Homo sapiens: one gene and its partner. The protein of the gene in region 2 interacts with the protein of the main gene of each other region in a pairwise test. Each region holds a gene or a part of one and is shown on either strand. Other genes may lie near its edges.

The links.
Region 1: the proteins of RIOK2 (region 2) and PRDM16 interact in a two-hybrid assay, tested with the Homo sapiens proteins (one large-scale study listed by BioGRID).

Annotation. Positions count from the first base shown.
Region 1 is NC_000001.11:3,067,992-3,072,002, forward strand, and holds the start of PRDM16 (histone-lysine N-methyltransferase PRDM16), read left to right. Parts: upstream 1-1,211; 5' UTR 1,212-1,268; coding exon 1,269-1,305; intron 1,306-2,222; coding exon of another isoform or gene 2,223-3,872; exon of another isoform or gene 3,873-4,011. Other genes in the region: translation initiation factor IF-2, read right to left, coding at 957-980, 2,223-3,872. UniProt on the Homo sapiens protein: Binds DNA and functions as a transcriptional regulator. Displays histone methyltransferase activity and monomethylates 'Lys-9' of histone H3 (H3K9me1) in vitro.
Region 2 is NC_000005.10:97,160,367-97,163,307, reverse strand, and holds the end of RIOK2 (serine/threonine-protein kinase RIO2), read left to right. Parts: intron 1-82; coding exon 83-247; 3' UTR 248-2,441; downstream 2,442-2,941. UniProt on the Homo sapiens protein: Serine/threonine-protein kinase involved in the final steps of cytoplasmic maturation of the 40S ribosomal subunit. Involved in export of the 40S pre-ribosome particles (pre-40S) from the nucleus to the cytoplasm.

The sequences.
Region 1 (4,011 bases), on a different chromosome or scaffold from region 2:
GCCACCCTGCCTGCGCTCAGCCCGGCCCCTCCGCCGCAGCGCCTCGGAGTTTGGGGGCTACAGGGGAAGAGGAAGCGTCTGGTCGGCTCCCGTCCGAGCTGCTCCACCTGCGCCGCTGGCCTTTCCGCCCGCTACGCACCTGGGCCCCGAGAGGCCAGAGGGGAGTGTCCCCAGTGGCCCGGGTCCCCGAAGGTGGCCCAGCTCGGGCGCTCGCGCAGCCGGGTACTCACCTTGGGGGCGCGGCGGCAGGAGAGCGCGGGCGGAGAGGTGCGGGCGCCCTGGGACGACCAGCCGAGGACGCCTGGTGTTTGGACGGCTGCCCCCGCGCTGTCCCCCCGTGCGAGGCGTGTTGGCCTCCGTGGCCTCGCGAGGGACCGAGGGCGGCGGGTCCGAGTGCCGCCCGCCGGCCTGGGCAGTGGCGGAGCGCGGAGCTGGCGGCGCCTCCGCTGTTGTTTTTGAGCCGCGAAGCCCGAAGCAGCAGCCGTTGGGTGGGGGCGAAGGGGAGGAGGCGGGGGCCGGGAGGCGCGAGGGGGGCGGTGGGGCCCGGAGGGGGCTTCGGAGGAGCCGGGTTCTGGCGCGCGAGCCCCGACGCCCCCTCCAGCGATCGCAGGGCGGGGACGGGGGCCGAGGGGAGAATGCAGGAGAAAAGCGGGCCGGGGCGACGGGGAACGCAAAGCTTTTAAATTAGTAATCAAACGCAGTAAAACGGAGCAAAACCAGCCCGGACTCGCGTCCGAACTATCGGCGCGTGTGCCCCGAGATCCAAGGAAGTCGTGTGGAAAACCGCAGCCGCCGCCCCATCTTCGGCCCCGGCTGGGGCGGGAGCAGCAGCGCGACGCGCCGCGACGCAGGGGCAGGGTGGGGGGATAGTCACCTCGCCTCCGGGGCCACCTGGGTCCTTTTAAAGTGTCCGGGGTGCGGGCCCCGGGCGGGAGCGCCGAACACGGAATGTTTTCTTAAAGGGCCAGTTCCGAGCTGCGCTGAAAAGGGGGGGGGGGAGAGGGGGGAGAGATAAGTGAGACGAAGACCGAGAAGGCCGAGGAGAGCCCCCCAATCCCGCGCCGAGGCGGCGGCGGCGGCGGCGGCGGCGCGACGATGAGGATGATGAATACATTGCAAAGTTTTTTTGGCCCCGGCGAGGGGTGTCAGATTGAGTGCTCTGTGCGCATGTGCGAAGGTGTCCAAACTGACAATGCTGGGGAGATGAAGATAGTGTGTGGCTGCTTCTGGACTCAAGGAGGAGGAGAGAGATTCCGCGAGCCGACACCATGCGATCCAAGGCGAGGGCGAGGAAGCTAGCCAAAAGTAAGTCTCCCGCGCTCGGCCGCGCCGCGCCGCCGGGGCCCGGGCCGCCGGGCCGGGGCGCCCGGGCCAGGGGTGCGCGTCGGGGCGCGGCCGGCGCGCCTGCGGCTCCGGGCCCCCGGCTCGGCCGCGCGGCCCGGGGGGCTGCTCCGCCTCCCGCGCTCCGGGGCGACCGGGCTCGGCGCGGAGGCTCGGGGCGCCCGGGCCGCGCGCTCCCCGAAGGCGCCGGCCCCCTCCCCGCGGAACCCCCTCCCCCCCCACCAGTGTCAGGCGCTCGGGCCCGGGAACCCGAGGCGCGCGGTGGGGGCCGGGGAGGGGGGCGGAGGGGGAGGGCCGGGGGTGGAGGGGAGCGAAAAGTGAAAGTTAGCGAAAAGTTGACGAAAGGGGAGAGCAACTTTTTCCTCCCCGCTCGCTCTCTCCCTCTCTCTCTCCGAGTGGCTCTCAGTCCTGGTCAAATCATATTCCGGGCTTTTGAAATAGTGGGCGCTAGAGCACCGCCTTTGGCGTCCGCCAGCCGGGCGCAGAGGAGGGAGACCCCGAGCCGGGGAGGGGCGGAGGAGGGGGCGCGGGCCGGCGCCCACCCGGCTCCGCGGGCGCAGGGGCAGGGGTGGCGACGGCGGGACAGCCGCAGCCACTTGGGGAGCAAAATGGAGACTTTTGCCCGGGCTGGGAACTGTGGTCGTGAAGTTTATCCCCGGCTGTGCCCCGCGTGGTGGAGGGCGCTCCTCTGGGACGCCGGCAGCCTGCGCGGGCCGCCGGGGCGACAGTGCCTCCGACAGGAGGGACCCACCCGGCCACCTCCCGACCCGCCGCTGCCGCCCTCGGGCCCGCGTGGACCCCTCTGTACCCGCTTGCCTGGCACAGCCGGGCCCGGCGGGGACAGAGCTGCCCCGGCCAGGCTGCCCGGTCCTCGGTCTTACTTTCTCTTTCGCTCCGTCTCGGCCGAGCCCCGGGCTCCGCGCGCCCCGCCTGCCGCCAGCCGGTCCTTGCCGCGGGCCGGGTGCTCCAGCCACCCGCGCCCTCGCCCGCCACAGCGCCTCCGAGCAGCCCGCGCGCACCCCGCAGCCCCGGTCGCCGGCGCCATCCGCGGTGAGGCGGGCGGGCAGGTGAGGACAGGCGGAGCCGCGGCCCGGCCAGCGCGGCTCCCGCAGCCCCGCCGAAGCCCCGGCTGCAGCGAAGCGGCCAGCGCCGCGCGGAGCGGAATCGGCGCCGCCTGCTCCCGCCGCCCCCTCCTCTGCAGGCCGCCCGCCCGCCCACCCGCAGAAGAGGCGCCCGGGCCGCTCCCCTCGAGGTCCCCGCCCGACCCACGCCGTTCCGTCCGCGCCTCCGGGGCCGGGTCCCTCCAGGCCGGCCTCGCAGCTCCCGGGGCCGAGCCCCCAAACGTGAGCCGGGTGCGCGCGGGACTCGCGGCGGTTTTCCGAAGCTCCGCTCCCTCGGCTCGGGGCCCGCCCGGCTCGTCCCAACAGCTGCCCCGCGGCCGTAGGCCCCGCGCTCTGTGCACCAGGGAAAAGCAGCTCCCGAGTTTGTGCCGGACGCTCCTGCGCCCCGCCATCGGCCGTTCCCGGCCCCTGGGTGAGGCGCCCCCTTCCCGCCGCGCTCCGCTGCCGGGTGCCCTCGGCCTCGGCCTCCCGTGACCTCTGACCCCTCTTGGTGCGAACAAGACCGGGCGTTTCGCCGCCGACGCGAAGGGGCTGTCTGTGCGCGGCGTTGCGGGCCCTCCGCGCGTGGGGTGTGCGTGTGCGTGTTCGGGTTCGGTTCTGTGTGTGCACCGCGGGCCTGCTCAGAGTCGGGACCACCGGGCTGCGTGTGGGCCGCCAGGTCAGGCCCTCGCCCAGGATGGGCCCTAAGCTGGAACGAGAAAGGGGAAACCGGCCGCGCTGACGCCGGGGCCTTCGCTGCAAGCGAGAGGCGGACTCGGCGCACCCGCGCGGCCCTGGAAACTTCCGAGAGGCCCCAGCTCTCCGCCGGCTCCACCTCTGCCAGGTGGGGAAGGTGGCCCGGGACCGGGTCCGCTCAGGACCAGAAGTGGTGCCTGGCAGCCATCTGGCCAGGAGGCCGGAGAGCCGGGCCCAGCGGGAGCGCCGAGCGCTGGCTTCCTTTTCCCGAGAGTCTTTAGTGAGGAAAAACCCCATGAGAGGTGACTGCCAGGCCTCGGCCCTCTGTCCACACTTGGCCGAGCGCTGGGAACCCCTCCTTCCAGGCTCCACAGCTGGGACCGCTTGTCCCAGGCCCCCCAAGGTGGCTGAGGCAGGTTCAGGATCACACTGCCTGCCCTGAGCAAGAAGGCAGGATCCGCTGAAGAATTTCATTTCATCAGGCGATATTTTAAGCAGATGTGAACTTCCCCGGGGACCATAGTCCATTACCCGAGTCAGAGGCGGTAGGGCCAGCACTCCAGCCAGCAGGTCCTCCCCTCCCCACAATGCTGACCAGGTCAGGGGACTGTGGGGTTGGGCAGGGGCAAGGTCATGGTTACCAGGTTGGTATTCAGGCTGGGCACAGAACAGCAACCAGGCCAGTGGAGGTGACCCCATGACCCAGCATTTCGGGGGCCACCGCCGAGTGTGCATCTGGAGGTGTAATTTCGTTTGTGTTTCCCTGGAGACCCCACTCCAAGCCTCAGTTCAGGTGGGTTAGTCCTCTGGATTGGGTCTTGTGAAGGGCCAAATGGTGGCGGCTCCGGGGGTGACCCGGGCTTCCAGCTGAGCT
Region 2 (2,941 bases):
ATATATAAATAGAACAGATATTAGCAGTGTACTTTTTGAAATGGTTCATTATCAGTAATACTAATTTATGAAATCTTTCCAGGAACTGGTGAAACAGAAGGTGAAACGTCAGTTGACAAAACAGCAAAAATCAGCTGTCAGACGTCGATTGCAGAAAGGAGAAGCAAATATATTTACCAAGCAACGTAGGGAAAACATGCAAAATATCAAATCAAGTTTGGAAGCAGCCAGCTTTTGGGGAGAATAATATATTTAGGATCTTGGATATGTTTAATATATTTTTTAAAGTTACTGTAATTCCTTTTTGAGCCCTCATTTGTCTTTTTTGAGCCAAGGCTATCATATATTAATAAATAAACCCTCTTTCATCTATAAATTTGGTCATTCAGTATGTGTCTTGCAAAGAATAATTACCTGCCAAAGCAGTCCATTTTTTTCAAAGTAATTTGGGTAACTACAGTTACGTAACTTTATTAGAGACATTTGCATATTTTTAAAAATCTAAATAACATTTTTGTTGTTTTCTGTTTGTTGAGGATGATATGCTACAATGCACATAAAGCAATTAGAACAATGTTTAGCACATTCTTAAGCATTCAATAAAACATGGCTATTAGAATCATAATGATTCTGAAATTCTGCTGACAATTTGGTTGCATTTTATTTGGCAACTGGAGGACTTCACTGTCTTATTTTTCTTTAGAAGTAAAGATAAGCCTTTGGAAGTAAAGATAAGCCAGTGATGCACAATTTGCTTAATTAATTGATTAATAATCTGTTTTGTGCCACTTACATTGGTAATGTGGTCATGAGAATGGAAACTTACTTGAGATAGTCTACCACAATTTTTACAGTTGGCAGCTTGTAAGCAGGCCTGAGTAGCAGAAGAGTTAGGGGTTGGGGAAGGTGGAGTAGAATGAGGAATGAAATGTTCTTTCTCATATGCTTATTATATAAGTGGGTCCGGAACATGTTCTCACCTCAAGGTTAACAAATACCTAATGCAGGAAAGAAAATACATAGCCATGGTCCCTTCCTCAAGGACTTTATAATTCAGTGAGATGTAAAGATGAGTGCTTAAGTGTATGCACCTGATTATTGTCTCTTCATTGCCGCATAAGTCGGAAAAGGGGATCACTTGCAGCGAAAAATGGCCACTAGATGGCAATATCACCCCATAGTCACCAAACAGGATTACTTGCATCCCTAATTATGTTCTACCAGAGGGAATATAGTACAGACTTTTCCAAGATTGATAAAGACAGCAGATTCCCTTTCACCTTTGCCAAATTAACTCTACTAGCTATTTGCAAGACCTGTAATTATCTAATAAATTGGCTTAAATATATAGAAGCTAGAAAATGCCAATTCCTCTTCCCTCAAAAGTTACCTGACATTCAAATATTTAAATACCCTTGCTTTGCATTTTAGATATATCTTTGAATTCAGGTATTCATTTTGTATAATCTCTCAACTTTTAAGCATTTTTATAATGTAAAGTTGAAAACAGCTTAATAGAACCACAGAATGTTTATTTTGGAGTCATTTTCTTATATTCAGAGCTATGAAAGCAAATTGGGAATAAAGCCTTATCCTGCTCAGCTTTACCTAGTTGACTCAGTTGACTTTTGAGTATCTACTACATAAAAAGCCCATTACTATTAAGAAACTCAAGACAAACATGATTTTTACCTTTAATAGCCTAAGATTTCTTGTGGGCCAAGGAATTAATTATTCCAATCAGAAATGGAGGCCTTACCTCATTTGGGCAAAGATTAGTGCTAGTTATTGAAGATTTACTAATAAATGATCTGTTAAGGAATTTAGTTTTTTTTGGATATGTTGTTTTGGTTGTTGAAAACTAAGGTATAATTATAATAGTTATTTTTTGAAGATATGTTTGGCTAGCCATCAATTAGAAGTTAGAGAGTTTGTCCTAACAGATAAGCTATAACCCTCACATTTTAAAACATGCATAGTGAACAATGAACAAAAACAAATTCAAAATTTTACTAATGTAAAGCTGTATATTGTGATTGTTAAAACACTTTTTTTTGCCTAGGAGTTCCAGATTTAAATCCTGGTTCTACACTTCCCAAACCTCAGGTACCTTCTGTGGCCTCTCTAACCTCAATTTTTTTACTTGTAAAATGGGGACATTTAATAGTATACCTCAGTGTCGTGAAGACTAAATGAAGTACCACTTGTAAAGAGTTTATTACAGTGCCTGACATATACTGTATGGTTAGTACTGCTAAAATGACTTCTTAAGGTTACCAAAAGGAAAATTCCACAAGCTGACCACCTTTCCTATTGTGATGGTCACTGGTATTTCAGCTATGATCCTTTGTTGTGTATTTATCCAGACTGAAAGATGTTTTTCTAGTAACCATCTTGCATCGTCTTAGTCTCCCCATTAAATAAACTTTTCCTACAAACTATGCGGTTTATATTTGTGCTAACTTTGTGGTATTGATAGCCATTGGTCTGTTCTTTGGCACATAGCTGGCTATCTTTGAGGTTTCTCCAAAACCATAGATGTTTAATGGATACTAATCAGAGTTAGTGCAGCTCGAGATAATCATTCTTTTAGCCAACTGCTTAGTAAATTTTCTGACAAAATACATAGCTGTCTAATTAAAAAACTCTGCCTGATGCTGCCTTCCAGGTTGCTACTTACAAAGGATAGAGGGATGAGTTATGTTAGGTTCTCAGAGCACTTTCTGAAGTGTAGGTTTATTTCACTGTCACAGATTCAGCACTCTGGGTGGGCTACAGTTCGCCATGCCCAGTCTTCTTTATCCCTCCTTAGAACATCTCCCTAGAGAGCATCAGGCCATATCTTAATTCGCCCTTGCTTTAGTTTATGAAGTACTGGAGCCATCTTATGCACCTGTGTAAGGAGGCTGGAGATTAAAGTTCAGAAAAGCCATGGGTTACA